4 linked regions of the Homo sapiens genome follow. The protein of the gene in region 1 purifies or fractionates together with the protein of each later gene. This does not show direct contact. Each region holds a gene or a part of one and is shown on either strand. Other genes may lie near its edges.

Region 1 (4,172 bases):
CACAAACATCTCTGCACCCCCATAGCCTCTGGCCCCTCTTCACACCCAAGCAGCAACCCCTACTCCACCGAAACCTCCCCTACCATCTTTTCAGCAGATCAAGCAAGAGTCTTACAGGCTATCAGTTAGGGACCCCAAGGAGGGACCCAGGAAAGAGGAGAGGAGCAATGAGAGGAGGCAGTCAGAGTGTCGAGGAGGGGAGAAGAGGCACAGACTGGCTGACTTACACAGCAAGAGAGAGAGAGAGAGAGACAGAAAGATGGAAAGGCTCAACGAGGAGGGTGGGGGCAGACGGGCAGAAAAACAAAGAGAGAGTGAAACAGAGACACTGAAAGAGAAACTGACAGGAAGAGGTCAGAGAGATAGTGACAGGCAAGAAGGAAGACAGATAAGGGGAGGGAGACAGACAGATAAGGACAGAGAGCTACAGAAAGCGAGATAGACAAGAAAGAAAGAAGAATGAGTAGGCATTCGGGGCTAGGGGACAGCTGACGCCCTGGGGCCTGCCTAGCTGCTGGATCCGACATACCAGGGAGTTCCTGAGAACTCGGCTGCCCTGTAGTGACATGTTAGTGTGCCCCCCCCACCCCAACAATACACATGCCAGGGGCCCCTGACTCACTGACGGTTCTCAGAACTCTCCCCCTCTACCCTCTAACTTTCCCTAACTTATAGGAACCAGGACCAGCCTAAGTGACCCCTCCCTTCCTCCTTTCCTCCCTTCCCAGCCTTGGCCCCACCAGGACAGCCAGGATCAGGTCCTAAGTTTCCCTGTGGACTTAGTAGAGGCCTATAAAGTAACCTCCACTGACTCCGAGGGAGGCCAAGTCCCTATTCTACCCACCCCCCAGCCCCTGCCCAGAGGGTTTCAAGCTGTAGGGACCCAGGGAGGGGGTGAGAATGCAGTGGGCTGGCAGGGTGTGTGGGAGCTGTCAGGCCAGCGTGCTCAAAGCTGCCTCAAAGCTGCCTCATTCGTTTGGATTCATAATCAATCTGTCTATTCGAGTCCATTATCTCCTCGTTAGCTCTGCGGGTGAGTGAGGAGGGAGGGGGCTGTGCAGGCAGTGGGGAGGGGGATGTCAGGCTGCAGCCCCACCCAGGGGGACATCTCAGCTCACCACCCTACATGCTTGCTAGTCCCCAGTTCTGGCCTGTCCACTCCCCCTACCACTCCCATCCCTACCCTGCTGGACCCACTTGGGGCTTGGAAAGAGTTGGGAAACACGAGCCCTGATGGGGAGCACTCAGGAGTCTGGACCCCAATCTGAAGGCCCAGGGTGATGAGAGAACTGGACTAGGACTGGCAACCTGTCTCTCATGCCCCCTCCCATCATGCAGAGACCTAGGCCTAGACCAAGACAAGGCCATCTCCTCTACTCCTGGTCTCCCTAGAGCTATTAGAGAGAGAGATTGAGTGCCTTCCCGTTAATTACCATGAGATACCCAAGGAACTCAGTGCCAATTACTGCAAGCTGCTCAAGTAACTTCCAGACAGTGATGATCCTCACCTCGGATACCTTCCAGCCCATCACAGCACAAGGCCAAGGTTCCTTGTCCACCCTCGAAACCCCAGGCCACAGGAGGAGGATTTTCTAGCAGTTCTCCCCTCTTCTAGATGTCTTGCTGGCCATGATAGCCATATGTAATATTCAAGTATTTTCCAGCCATCACCATATGATGCCTGAGTACCTCCAGGCCAGTCATTACCGCATACTCCCATAGGTTTCACCAGCTGCTAAAAAGTACTTGAGTATTTTGTAACCAATTCCTGCAGAATGTCAGAGTCCTGCAGAATGCTGAAGATTCCTCCCAGCTTCGTGTACCAAAGGGAGGAGGGTCTCTCAGCAAGGGCCCTGACTCCCCGCCCCAGGTAGAGAGACAAGGTTGGAGAGGGAGATGGGAGTGGGGAGAGAAAATCCAGGAGGGGGTCCCATTTCCCAGATCCAAATCAACGGGTTCTGGGGGAAGGAATGGTAAAAATGGAAAGAGGAGAGCTCAACCACTCAGCTCCTCACCGCCTCCCACCAATGCCAGCCAGCTCAATCCCCAATTCCAGAAGAAAAGCTAGGGTTGCCTCCTCATAACAAGAAAGTGGGCGGGGGCTGGCTTGCCCCTAGAAAAGGAAAAAGGCAGTAAGGGTGACAAACTGGGGACTTCTCTGCTGGTAACCATCCTTCTCTGTAGGACAGAGCAGGGGCTTCTGGCTGAGCTCCAGAAAGCGCCTTCTAGACGGCTAGGCTCTCTCAGACCTGGTCCACGGAGATTTCCCCCTTCGATCTCCCTGAAGCCGGCGGCCCAGCTGCCCTGAACACTAGGGGACATCCAGGCACTGACCATAAAGCTTGCTAGGGCAGCGGCGGCTGCGGAGGAACGCCCGGGCAGCGCCGAAGGCTGCGTGGTGCCAGCCTTCCGCCGTGCTCGTCCTGCCTGACCAGCAAACAAGCAGCGAGTCCGCGCCCTCGGGGCACTGCAATGCCTGCCTGTCCCCGCGCCCCCCCACCGCCCGCCGGACACTCACAGCTCAGTCAGGTTCTCTGCGCCGGGCAGGTGGTGGAGGCTATCCAGGGCCCCATCCCGGGTGCATCGCAGTCCCGAGGAGCCGTGGGGGCAGCAGGCATCGGGGCAGGGTGCGGCGCCCGCAGATGCCAGTATCAGCCAAGCCAGCAGGCTGCCCGGCCCCGCAGCCCAGCTGTGCCAGCCAAGCTGCCCGCGCCGTCCGCCTCGCAGCATCGCGGCGGCGCCCGCCTCGCTCAGGCGGGGCAGCCGTCTGTGCGCTCCCAGCTGCAGCTGCCAGGCCTCCCCCGACATGTGCGCTGGGCGGTGTTAAAGACCCAGCCGCCAGGAAAGGGCGGAGCCAGCGGCCCCCGCCCGGCCCCGCCTTGCCCCTCTTCTCCACCCGCTTCCTACTCTCTGACGCCCCCCCCTCTGCCCCCTCCCCTGTTAGGGGCCCCCAGCGTCAGCCTTCTCCCCGAGGATCCGCCTCAGCTCCGGCAGACGCTGAGGGGCCGCAGCAGAACGCCTCGGAGGTGTCTGCTGAGGCCGGAGGTGGGAAGCTGATACGTTATTTCTCTCAGCTTAAAGCAGCTGCATTTTTACATTTGGGGAGGAGGGAAGATGACTGCGTTGAGGAAAGGTTGCTGTCCAGGTCATCCTAGCCAGCCCCAGGCTCAGCGCTCCATCCTCGCGGCGCGCGTGCCTAGGGGAGTGAGCATGTCACTTGGAGTAAGTTAGGTAGAACATTCTCCGAACTCTAGGAAGAAAACGAAAAGGACTACCAAAGGATCAATCGCAGAACCTGGGGAGGAAGACACAGACGGGGCAGAGAAAGGGAAGGGGTCGCCTAATCCGGCCGAAGGGAGTCCGGAGAGCCAAGACCGCGCCTCCAAGAGAAGCCACAGGGTGGCGCGAGAAGCCCGCGCGCAAAGGCGCGAGCTCCCCGCCCGCGCTGGGTGCCTGGGGGTGCGATCTGCAGCCCCCAGTGAGCAACGCCTCAGGTCTCAGCTTCAGTCCCTGACCCCGGCCAGCCAGCGCCGGCCCCGGGGCAGGATAGGGCAAGGCAGGGCAGGGCTGACATCGATCGCCTCCCTGACAAGAGCATCGATTTATTCGTGAAGAAATTAATAGATCTTCTCTTAGCTCCTCGGACGCAGGAGCCGCCCGCGGGTGGAGCTGAGGACCGCGCACCTTGGAGGCCGAGCACCTGGAAAGCCCCGGGATCCCCAGCACCCAGGGCAGCAGAAGGCTGGTCCCAACCCCTCCCACCGCGCAAGCCTCCGTGGCTGCACTAACCCATCCGTCTCAAGCTGGGGAGAGCGAAGGGAAGAGGGGTGTCTCTTGGCGGGGAGACAGGCAAGGCCCCAGGGAGCGGGGGAAGGACGACCTCCTAGAGGCTCACGGTTCTCTCCGCCAAGGCCCCAGCACGGATGGCCCCCCAAGTCCCCGAGACAGGGACACACAGACCGACCGAGCAGCCTGAGCTCAAGAAGGTGACCAGACGGAGGCAGAGCCCTACACAGTGATCGCCTTCTTCCTCGGGATCTTGGTCAGAACCAAGGGACTAGGCGGTGACGGAGCCTGGCGCTAAGGGGTCTCCAAAGAGGACAAGGAGGCCTCCTAGGAGGCTGAGAGGGGCTCCCAGAGGCCAAGGGCTGTCCACGTTCTCCCGGGTCGAG
Region 2 (3,526 bases), on another chromosome or scaffold:
GGGCACAATCCCAGGGCAGAAAGGCTGTGTTTCTAGTGAGTTTCTGGAAACTGACTCAGGGCAGCAGGAATCCCAAGTACAAACCCTCAGTTCTTAACACTCCTGCTCTCCATGTGCCCTGACCTCCTCTCTGTTCCCGTCTTGCCAGTTCTAAAGGAGTGGAAATCGCTTTGCTCTAAAGAGTTGGGCTGGAAGCGGGAGGGGCTGTGAGCACCTGACTGAGGTCATTGGACGTCATGGAAAGATAGGAGGTGACAGGGACAGGGCAGGACGGGAGGCTGCCCCTGACCCACATGGACCTGGTTTCCAGGCCAGCCGCATGGGAGTGGAGGCAGTCATCGCCTTGCTAGAGGCCACCCCGGACACCCCAGCTTGCGTCGTGTCACTGAACGGGAACCACGCCGTGCGCCTGCCGCTGATGGAGTGCGTGCAGATGGTGAGTGGGCAGCCCATGGCCAAGGGCAGGGCGGAGACGGCTGGGACAGAAGCTGCTTGTCAGGCCAGCCTGGGCACCTTGGGTGTCTCGTCGGTGCACGATGCATTACACGGCCTTTCTGAGAAGGAGGTGAGCTGCCCGTGGGGAGGGAGAAGGCTTATGTTCTCTCCCACACCTGCAGAGCCTGCGCCGTCTTCGCTCTTTGGTTTTCTAAGTTACCATCCATCTGTGTGGCACATAGTCGTAACCTCCCCTGAGTGGGGGTCTAGAGCATCGGGATCCTCAACAGTCGAGGATCCAGGTGGCCCCAGTGCACCAGGTGCTGCAGAAGGACAGAGTGCAGGGAGGCAGCCGAGAGAGAGAGATCCGTGGACAGACTGCAGGGAGGCGGGCGTGAGAGAGACCCATGGGGCAGAGGGGGCAGGGAGGCAGGGAGGCGGGCGTGAGAGAGATCTACAGGGTGGTATTTTGTAGGGGAAGGTGGGACCTTCCCAAACTTCTCCAGTTTCAGCCATTTCCTGTCCTCCTATCCCCAAGGACATTCAGGTCTGTGATGGGACACAGGGAAAGCTCTGGTCACCCGAAGATACACCCACCCTTCTTGGGCCAGGGAACTGTCTGCCTGCAAATGAACAAAGGGAAAAGCAGTTCCAGCTTTTCAGGCATTGGTTCAGTAGTGGAGGTGGCTGTGGAGTTAGCTGCATTTGAAGTTATTTAATTAATTAATTTATTTATTTAGAGACGGAGTCTCACTGTTGCCCAGGCTAGAGTGCAGTGGCGTGATCTTGGCTCACTGCAAGCTCCGCCTCCTGGGTTCACGCCATTCTCCTGCCTCAGCCTTCCGAGTAGCTGGGACTACAGGTGCCCACCACCACGCCTGGCTAATTTTTTTTTTTTTTTTTTTTTTTTGTATTTTTAGTAGAGGTGGGGTTTCACCGTGTTAGCCAGGATGGTCTGGATCTCCTGACCTTGTGATCCATCCACCTCGGCCTCCCAAAGTGCTGGGATTACAGGCATGAGCCACCACGCCCAGCTGTTGTTTTATTTTTCAGAGTTCATTCATGATTCGTGACTCCTGTTTTGTTGCCTCTTAACACACACAAAGAAGTCGTGAAGCAATCAAGTCAGGGACTTGTTGAAAGTCACCTTGTAAACATAATTTCCAAAAGCCCAAGGGAGAAAATAGTATTTGTGTGTATGTGTGTGAGTGTGTGCGCAGGCTTGTGTCTCTGTGTGTATGTATGTATATGTGTGTGCATGTGTATCTCTGTATATGCATATACATGCAGGTTTATGCATATATTTATGCATGTGTGTGCATGTTTGTGAGGTAGTTTGGGTCTGCATGTATGTGTATGTTTATATGCATGAGTATGCATGTTTGTGGTAGTATGTCTGCATGTATGTGTGTGCATGTTTGTGTGCATGCATGTTTGTACGTGTGTGCATGTTTTTGTGAGGTAGTGTGTGTGCATGTTAGTGTGTGTGCATGTGTGTATATGCATGTGTACATTTGAGTGTGAGGTAGTATGTTTCTGCATGTTAGTGTGTGCATGTATGTTTATATGCATGTGTATATATGTGTGTGAGGTAATGCATCTGCATGTGTGTGCATGTATGCTTATATGCATGTGTGAGCATGTTTGAGATAGTGTGTGCATGTCTGTGTGTGCATGTGTTTATATGGATGTGTGTGTATGTTTGTGAGAGGTAGTATGTGCCTGCATGTTTGTGTGTGTGTGCAGGTATGTTTCTATGCAGATGTGTGCATGTTGGCATGAGTGTGAGGTAGCGTGTGTCTGCATGTTTGTGTGTGCAGGTATGCTTATGTGCATATGTGTGTATGTTGGAGTGTGAGGTAGTGTGTGTCTGCACGTTAGTGTGTGCCTGTGTGCATGTGAGAGGCAGTAGGCTTAAAAGGCTCAGAGCACTGAACGACATGCGGTACGTGTATTTTGAGCCTGTGTCTCATGTCTCTGCTTGTCTAGAGACGACCGTGGTAGGTGTCACTTGCCCTGACCTTGAAACCACCCTTGTGTGGCTTTGTTTTTAAAGCTGAGGGACCACTACTGTGCACCTGCTGTTTGTCAGGCGTCTTCCTGAGGGTCTGACATGCTTGAATAACCTTAGAGATAGCTGGAAGTAGGAGTATTTTTCTCATCTTACAGATGAGGAAATTGAAGTTCAGAGCGAGAAAGAACTTGACCAAGATCCTGACGTTGCCCAGGGCTGCCTGGCGTGCATCAGTCCCAGCCCCGTGTCCCAGGGCCTCCATCCGGGCCCCTCTGCTCCCCCGCCCGCTGTGACCTCGCTCCCATCCCACATCCCCCAGTGAGCTGGTGTGTTCTGTTTTGTTTTTCCCCACCATAATCAAATTGAGAATTCCTTAGAACCATGCCTGAGAGATTTCATTTCCTCTGGCTTTGTTCTCTTGGAGTTAAATCTTCACAGTGTTGTGTCCACAAACAGCAGGTGACACCTTCTCTTTTTCCTCAGAAGCCTCCTGAGCTAAGCAGTCCCAGGGCTCTGACCTCACAGCCGGGCCGTGTGGGGCTGGCTGCCAACCAGCATTAGGACACACTTGGCGGCCGGTCGTCTAGACCATTAACCCTGGGGCTGCTGGCTGCCCGGGTCAGACTGGAGGGGGCTGGTGGGAAGGACCGAGCCAGTCTCTACCTACCCCATCCATGATGCACCAGGTCCTGACACATTCTTTCTTCTTTTCATCATTGTTTTAAAAGACTCAGGATGTGCAGAAGGCGATGGACGAGAGGAGATTTCAAGATGCGGTTCGACTCCGAGGGAGGTGAGGTGCTTTGGAGAAAGCTCTGCCCTGTCAGGAACACACACCCCTCAGGCCCAGCCACTGCAAACGTGCTTAGGGGTTGTGCTTATTCCATGTCACTGTGAAAAATCAGAAAGTCAGGCAGTACTCACAGCACCGCTCTTGCAGTAGCAGGCCCTGGTGACTGGTTAGAGAGAAATCATTTTCTAAATTTGCCATTGGTCCTTTTTGGTAAGGTGATGGTTGTTTAGGAGCTAATGAGATTAAGGCACAAGGTGACTTGTGGCCCTTTAACAACAAACCAA
Region 3 (3,526 bases), on another chromosome or scaffold:
CTGTTGCCCAGGCTGGAGTGCAGTGGCGGGATCTCGGCTCACTGCAAGCTCCGCCTCCTGGGTTCATGCCATTCTCCTGCCTCAGCCTCCTGAGTAGCTGGGACTACAGGCGGCCACCACCACGCCCAGCTAATTTTTTGTGTTTTTAGTAGAGACAGGGTTTCACCGTGTTAGCCAGGATGGTCTTGATCTCCTGACCTTGTGATCCTCCCGCCTTGGCCTCCCAAAGTGCTGGGATTACAGGCGTGAGCCACCACGCCTGGCCTCAGTAAATGTTTTGATAAGAGGATACATTAAGAATCATTCACATTGACTGATGGTCTTTTATTTGGTAATGTATATATCTGATTAGCTTATGCAGAGTCCCGGCAGTAACTTATTAGCATCCCTCTTCTGTCCATTGGTTTTAATAACCACAGTTGTCTTTGTAATGTAATTCATAAGTTTGTTTTGTTTGGCATGTGTGTGTTTGGAAAGCAATTCTGCCTACTGTCAGTTTTCTGAGGTTTACATAGGCAAAAGCTTTGTCTTGAGAGGTGGTCTTTTGGGTTTCTTTTCTCTCTTGCCTACTCCAGAGCCAGAATCCTGAGTTTGTGACAGAATCCTCTGTTTGTGACATCCCAGCCCCCCCACTGTAGCTCACGGTGATGTCACAAATGAAGAATTATGATCCTGGCAGGGGAAACAGATGAACTTGGAAGAAACAAAAGATCTTCTTTGCCTGCAGCTGTCCCTAGTCATGGGGAGGTTGGGGGGTGGGAAGTGAAGCACTGACGATCCCCATGATTAGCAGAACCAGCTCTGCATAAAACGGGGTCCTTGTGAAGGCAACAGGGTGTGGCTGCTGACATTTTGACTGACTTTTTCCTGCCCCCTCATTCCTTTTCCATCTGGGGGGGCAGGACAGTTAGCACAACTCTACCTACATAATGCTTAAGTTTTCATATTGTCCTTAGAACTTTCAGGACATGCCGAGTGCGGTGGCTCATGGCTGTAATCCCAGCACTTTGGGAGGCCGAGGTGGGCGGATCACCTGAGGTCGGGAGTTAGAGACCAGCCTGACCAACATGGAGAAACCCTGTCTTTACTAAAAATACAAAAAATTAGCCAGGCCTGGTGGCGCATGTCTGTAATCCCAGCTACTCAGAGGGCAAAGGCAGGAGAATTGCTTGAACCCGGGAGGCAGAGGTTGCAGTGAGCCAAGATCATGCCATTGCACTGCAGCCTGGGCAACAAGAACGAAACTCCATCTCAAAAAAAACAAAAAACAAAAAAACAGAAAACTTTCAGGACAGTAAACCTGTGCCACTGAAGGAGAGGCATTCCTGTCACTGCTGTGTGACACTGCAGAAAGTCTTCTCAGTGAAACAGCTGGTAATGTGGTAGTGTTTACTGACTTGCTCATATTTTAAATTTCAGTTTTGGAATAGGTGCTATTCATGGTTCAAAAACTAGAAAGTGTTGCCAGATGCAGTGGCTTATGCTTGTAATCCCAGCACTTTGGGAGGCCAAGGCAGGAGGATCACTTGAGGCGAGGAGTTCGAGACCAACCTGGGCAACTTATTGAGACCCTGTCTCTACAGATAATTTAAAATTTTAGCTGAGTGTGGTGACGTGTGCCTGCAGTCCCAACTACTCATGAGGCTGAGGCAGGAGAATCACTGGAGTCTGGGAAGTCGAGGCTGCAGTGAGCCATGATTGTGCCACTGATACTCCAGCCTGAACAGCAGAGCAAGACCCCATCTCAAAAACAAAACAAACAAAAGTTAGAAAGTATGAAAAATATTCAGTGATGAGTGTCCCCTCAAACTTGTCCTCTCTCCGCCCAGTTCTCACTCCCCTAAGCTAACCACTGTTCTTATGTCTTCTATTTTCTTCCTTAGTTTTGTTGTACTTATATAAAATAAAGATCCTTGATTTTCTCCCTTTATTTAGCGTGAAAGGTAGTATGCTTTATGGCAGGTCTGCACCTTTAAAAAAAAATCACTGAGTAGCTCTTGGAAGTCTTTCCATATTAGTACATGAAGAGCTTCTTCATTCTATTTTAGAACTATATAGTATTCCATTATATGAATGTCCATGTTAACTAACCAGTCTCCTGTGGATGGAATTTGAATTTTTCTGCTTGTAAGTTTTCAGAGTTTATCTCTTCCTGACCCCCATGGCCAAATTCTTAGAGGGAATAGGTGTCCCTTAACTCCAGATTTGTCCTTCGGTTCATTTATTCTCGGCGTGAATGTGATTCAGCAAGGCTCTCCCAGGAATAAATAGCAGCTAAACCAAAACTGAAAGCTCAGAGGACAAACTAGTAAAAAGAGAAAAACAGAATATATGGAGATGCTTTATGAGGCTGAAAGAGTAAATTAATCCCCACCTTTTTGTGTGTGTGATTGCTCCTTGGCTTGTGGTTTGTATAGTGGCATGTTGGGAATAGTAATCTGATGTAGCCTATTTAGAGCCATTTAAAATAACTATTTTAAGGCTGGGTGTGGTGGCTCACGCCTGTAATCCTAGCACTTCGGGAGGCTGAGGAGGACGGATCACGAGGATCAAGACCATCATGGCTAACATGGTGAAACCCTGTGTTTACTAAAAATACAAAAAAAAATTAGCTTGGGCGTGGTGGCGGGCGCCTGTAGTCCCAGCTACTCGGGAGGCTGAGGCAGGAGAATGGCGTGAACCCAGGAGGCAGAGGTGGCAGTGAGCCAAGATCCTGCCACTGCACTCCAGCCTGGGTGACAGAGTGAGACTCCATCTCAAAAAAAAAAAAAAAAGTGATAATATTGCCTATTTCATAAAATTCTTGTGAGGATTAAATGGGTTCATATATGAAAGTACCCAGTAAATGTTTACTGTCCTCATTATCATCTGGAGCCTTTGCTGTCCTCATTTCAGTGCTTTTATTTAATGAATTAGGTATGTTTTTAAACTTTGATATTACTTAGAAGTGGACCCAAAGACCTCATTGAGTTTTGAGTCTGTTACCTGTGACTAAACTAAAGTGAAGATGTTTCTGGAGTCCCTGATGAAGAGCCTTATTTGTTTTCTTCTTCCCTACAGGTTGTTTTCTGCATGGACCGTGCCCTAGAATTTGCCCCTGCCTGCCATCGCTTCAAAATCCTCAAGGCAGAATGTTTAGCAATGCTGGGTCGTTATCCAGAAGCACAGTCTGTGGCTAGGTATGCAGTCAGGCTAGCTGGACATTAAAATGCCAGATACCATTGGACTGATGGTGTCCGGCAGCTTCACCACAGGATATGGTCCCCAGAGTAGGCCAGCTAGGGCTGATCAGACCCTCTTGGGACTTAAAGTCAAAGATTAGACCAGCTTTGAAAACCCGTAGGGTATACAGGAGTATAGTAGTATAGCAGGTACTTGAGCTATATATGAAAGAACAGATTGTGTTTTTGTGGTTTTGTTTGTTTGTTTAAGGTAGTCCTTTTCCTTCTACTCCACTGGTTGGCACACTTTCTGCAAAGGGCCAGATTTTAGCCTTTGCAGGCCACAGGGTCTCTGTTGCAACTAA
Region 4 (3,526 bases), about 40 Mb from region 1:
GGAAGGGCTCACCTCCATGTGCATTTTAGCCACCTCCCAATAAACCTGTTGACTGAAAAGTACTCACTGGAAAAAACCACTCTACTAAAGCCTGCTATTTTTCTAATGGGCCTTAAACCCAAGATTCACTGACAGCAGGCAATTACATATAAGCTCTCATTAAGAGAGGAAAATATGATCACTTTTATACTCTCAAAATAACAAGTCAAAAAAAAAATAAAATATTTTTGTCTAAAGTATCTATTTATCTGTGTTTTGTGCTCATGTTACCAAACATTTGAGTGCTATCTACATGCCAGGAACTGAATTCAGTGCTTTAATTAACTTGTTTAATTCTCATGACAATCCTTTTTTAGGCATTATTAACCTCATTTTATAAGTAAAGAAATAGACCCGCAGCATTTGAGTAATGGGCATAGGTCGGAGAGAGCACACTTCATTAAGACTCTAATAAAAACTTAAGTGAGATGTGAAGTGGCTAGAGACTGCCTGGCACAAAGTAAGCACAGAGTCACTGTTGGCATGTTGTTCTGAGCTGACTCGAGGCCTCCTCTTGGAGCTTAAAGTGCTTGTGTCAAGAAAAACGCTCTCAACCTTGTTCTTCTCTCCTTTTTTTTTTTTTTTTTTTTTTTTTTTTTTTGAGATGGAGTTTCACTCTTGTTGTCCAGGCTGGAGTGCAATGGCACAACCTTGGCTCACTGCAACCTCCACCTCCCAGGTTTAAGCAGTTCTCCTGCCTCAGCCTCCCGAGTAGCTGGGATTACAGGCATGCACCACCATGCCAGGCTAATTTTGTATTTTTAGTAGAGACGGGGTTTCTCCATGTTGGTCAGGCTGGTGTCGAACTCCTGACCTCAGGTGATCCACCAGTCTCAGCCTCCCAAAGTGCTGAGATTACAGGCATGAGCCACCGCACCCGGCCTCTTCTCTACTCTTACACCCCAACAATCAACACAGAAGATGACTTCTGTGAGCAAAGGTGTGGCGGTTTCTCCCCACCACCAAGGTTTCCTCCAATTCAATTCCAACACTATCTACCTGGAAAATCAGAAAAGTGGAACAAGATTAGAGTCCTGCCTTGCGACAGGTGAAAAGGAGGGCAGGAGAGAGATCCTGTTTCTTGAAGCCTGCCACTGAGGTCTAACACACCCAACATTATAACAAACGACTGTAATAAGGGCTATGGGAGTTATGAACCAGGAACTGTGGACAAAAACCAATATATATCAGAATACCACAGTACCCATGTCTCTTGATGCCTTACTGAAAAAATGCTACATATTGGCTTGCTATTCAAGTTATTCCCAGACATTTCAGTGATTATCTGGAAATAAGACATCCCTAGACTATTTACTTTTATAACATTTGTTACACATTTAATATCAAAATCCTCTACATAACAAGGATACATAACGCCTATTTTATGAAAAGGTTTCTTTAATTTTTGTACAAAACAATTTCCAACTAAATGATAGAATAACTAAACAAATGATAGTATAACCATAACACACTGCAATGGGCTAGCTGGGAAAAGTGCAAAAATGGGAATTGTTGAAGATTCAACTAGGTGAAAGATTCAACTCTATTTAACAAATGTAGAAAAATAAAGGGAAAATTTATCATCAAAAGGTCAAGGCATAAGCATGGCTTTGAAGCCAACTGCAAGTCCTGGTGTTCCCACTTACTGGCTCTCAACTGCTATAAAATAGGGAAAAGAAAATAACATCTACTTTCAAAAAGTTTCAGGGAAAAGAAACGGTAGCATATAAATGCCCAAATTCTGTGCATGTCACATGGTAGATACGCAGATGGTGTCTGTCATTTTCTTACTAGAGCCCCTGAGGTTAGACCTGTATGTAATACAGGGGAAAATATAATACGGAAAACTAGGATTTTGTACAACAGCTTTCAAACTAGAACATACCCGGCTCAAGTCTGTTCCATATTTACGATGAAGTTCATCAAGGCTAAGTTTATGATCATCCTAAGGGAAAACAGAAACAAAGAAAATAGTTAAACAGTGTAGTATAAAAAAATGACAGAAAAAATAGCATTATTCATTACTATCATTAAGCTTATTAAACAAAGTGCAGATGTTTTCTTCAGTGCATAAGTTGGTACAATTTTCACCATCGCTTTGTGGCTTTGCAACCACACAGTTATCATTGACAGCTCTTCACTGGAGAATGGCTAAAGCTGAGTGACCGTGGCCCATTACTATTTGCCATAACACTTCAGAGAAACCCAGCAGCTCTCAGGGATCTAGTAAAACCTTATCTGCCTTCTCTGATGACCAGGTCGATTCTAGACAGGTTAAGTCTATGGAAGCTTCCATCGCCTGGAGAGGCTGAATTTCCCAATGTTTGATATAATACAGAGAAAAGCAAAGACTCATGGTATCAACCTAAGTTCCTTCTGTTATCTCTGGTTATGCCAGAGTGACTGAATAACTTTTCCTACCCTCTAACAGCTTTTAAAAAGTATATGTTCAACATTAACCTCTACGACTAGATGAGATCTGTACAGCTGCTATGATCTCTTTTAATATATAGCAGTTCTTTGAAGAATACAGTGAGGCCTGGGGGATTAAAAATCATGGATTTTTAATAAGGATGGAATACAATATTCCTCCTAGTACTTACCATAGAAACTTCTTTCTTCAGTTCATCCATGTCCCTGTCTTTTTTGCCCTTTTTGCCCTTTTTATCACCTTGTTCTGAAACAGCTGCAGGCTCATACTTATCACGTCCAACCTGTAGGAGAATGTGGGAAAAGTGAGGCCATGAATTATGAACCTCATCTGAAACTGAAAATTCTGGAGCAGGGGATTTTGGTAGTTTTTAAGGTAGTCATAATTTGGAATAGTCATTAAGATAATAGTCAGGAAAATGTATACCCATATATTGCCTACTACATAAGCAAAGCAATCTACTATTAATACATTGGCTCAAGATACATTCTCTCCATCCAAGAGCATTAAGAACAATACTGAAGCTACCGGTAGGCTTCAGAATGGCCCTGCCAGTGCCACTTCCTTTTGGGGTTAATGAGGAGATTTTTGCTATCAAAATCCCTATTCTGCAGCCTTCCATCTTCCCTACTGAAAGAATGAAACTAACTTTACATTATTAACTTAGAGTGCAATATTGTGCTTATGAGTCCGCATTCTCAATCAGACAGCCTTGAGTTAAAATCCTGGGCTTTACCACTTACCAGCAGTGTATCCTTAGGCAAGTTACTAACTTCTACATTTCAATTTCCTCTTCCACAGCGTGGAGATAAAGAATAGTGCCAACCTCATTTCATGTTTTTAAGGATTAAATGATACAATACATCTAAATGCTAGTACTTTTATACTGTTTATATTCTTTGCTTTGCAAAGACATTATTACATATCAAATTTAAATATCTTTAGTGCTCACATAAGAACACTGACCTTTACCAGCTTCCCATATTAAAAAGTCAGCCTAAGACTCCTTAAAATTCTTTGCATAAGAGATAAAAAAGGGAGCGCCCAGCCCATTCT

The links. The genes of interacting proteins can lie anywhere in the genome.
Region 2: the proteins of NTRK1 (region 1) and PFKP purify together in Homo sapiens (affinity purification with mass spectrometry; 2 studies listed by BioGRID and IntAct, with this or other methods). This does not show direct contact.
Region 3: the proteins of NTRK1 (region 1) and DNAJC7 purify together in Homo sapiens (affinity purification with mass spectrometry; 2 studies listed by BioGRID and IntAct, with this or other methods). This does not show direct contact.
Region 4: the proteins of NTRK1 (region 1) and ATP1A1 purify together in Homo sapiens (affinity purification with mass spectrometry; 2 studies listed by BioGRID and IntAct, with this or other methods). This does not show direct contact.

What each region holds. Positions count from the first base shown.
Region 1 is NC_000001.11:156,859,493-156,863,664, reverse strand, and holds the start of NTRK1 (high affinity nerve growth factor receptor isoform 2 precursor), read right to left. Parts: upstream 2,801-4,172; 5' UTR 2,731-2,800; coding exon 2,519-2,730; intron 1-2,518. UniProt on the Homo sapiens protein: Receptor tyrosine kinase involved in the development and the maturation of the central and peripheral nervous systems through regulation of proliferation, differentiation and survival of sympathetic and nervous neurons.
Region 2 is NC_000010.11:3,109,045-3,112,570, forward strand, and holds part of PFKP (ATP-dependent 6-phosphofructokinase, platelet type), read left to right. Parts: intron 1-310; coding exon 311-436; intron 437-3,177; coding exon 3,178-3,242; intron 3,243-3,526. UniProt on the Homo sapiens protein: Catalyzes the phosphorylation of D-fructose 6-phosphate to fructose 1,6-bisphosphate by ATP, the first committing step of glycolysis.
Region 3 is NC_000017.11:41,989,917-41,993,442, reverse strand, and holds part of DNAJC7 (dnaJ homolog subfamily C member 7), read left to right. Parts: intron 1-3,060; coding exon 3,061-3,179; intron 3,180-3,526. UniProt on the Homo sapiens protein: Acts as a co-chaperone regulating the molecular chaperones HSP70 and HSP90 in folding of steroid receptors, such as the glucocorticoid receptor and the progesterone receptor.
Region 4 is NC_000001.11:116,383,241-116,386,766, reverse strand, and holds part of ATP1A1 (sodium/potassium-transporting ATPase subunit alpha-1), read right to left. Parts: intron 3,398-3,526; exon of another isoform or gene 3,214-3,397; intron 2,754-3,213; coding exon 2,643-2,753; intron 1,985-2,642; coding exon 1,925-1,984; intron 1-1,924. UniProt on the Homo sapiens protein: This is the catalytic component of the active enzyme, which catalyzes the hydrolysis of ATP coupled with the exchange of sodium and potassium ions across the plasma membrane.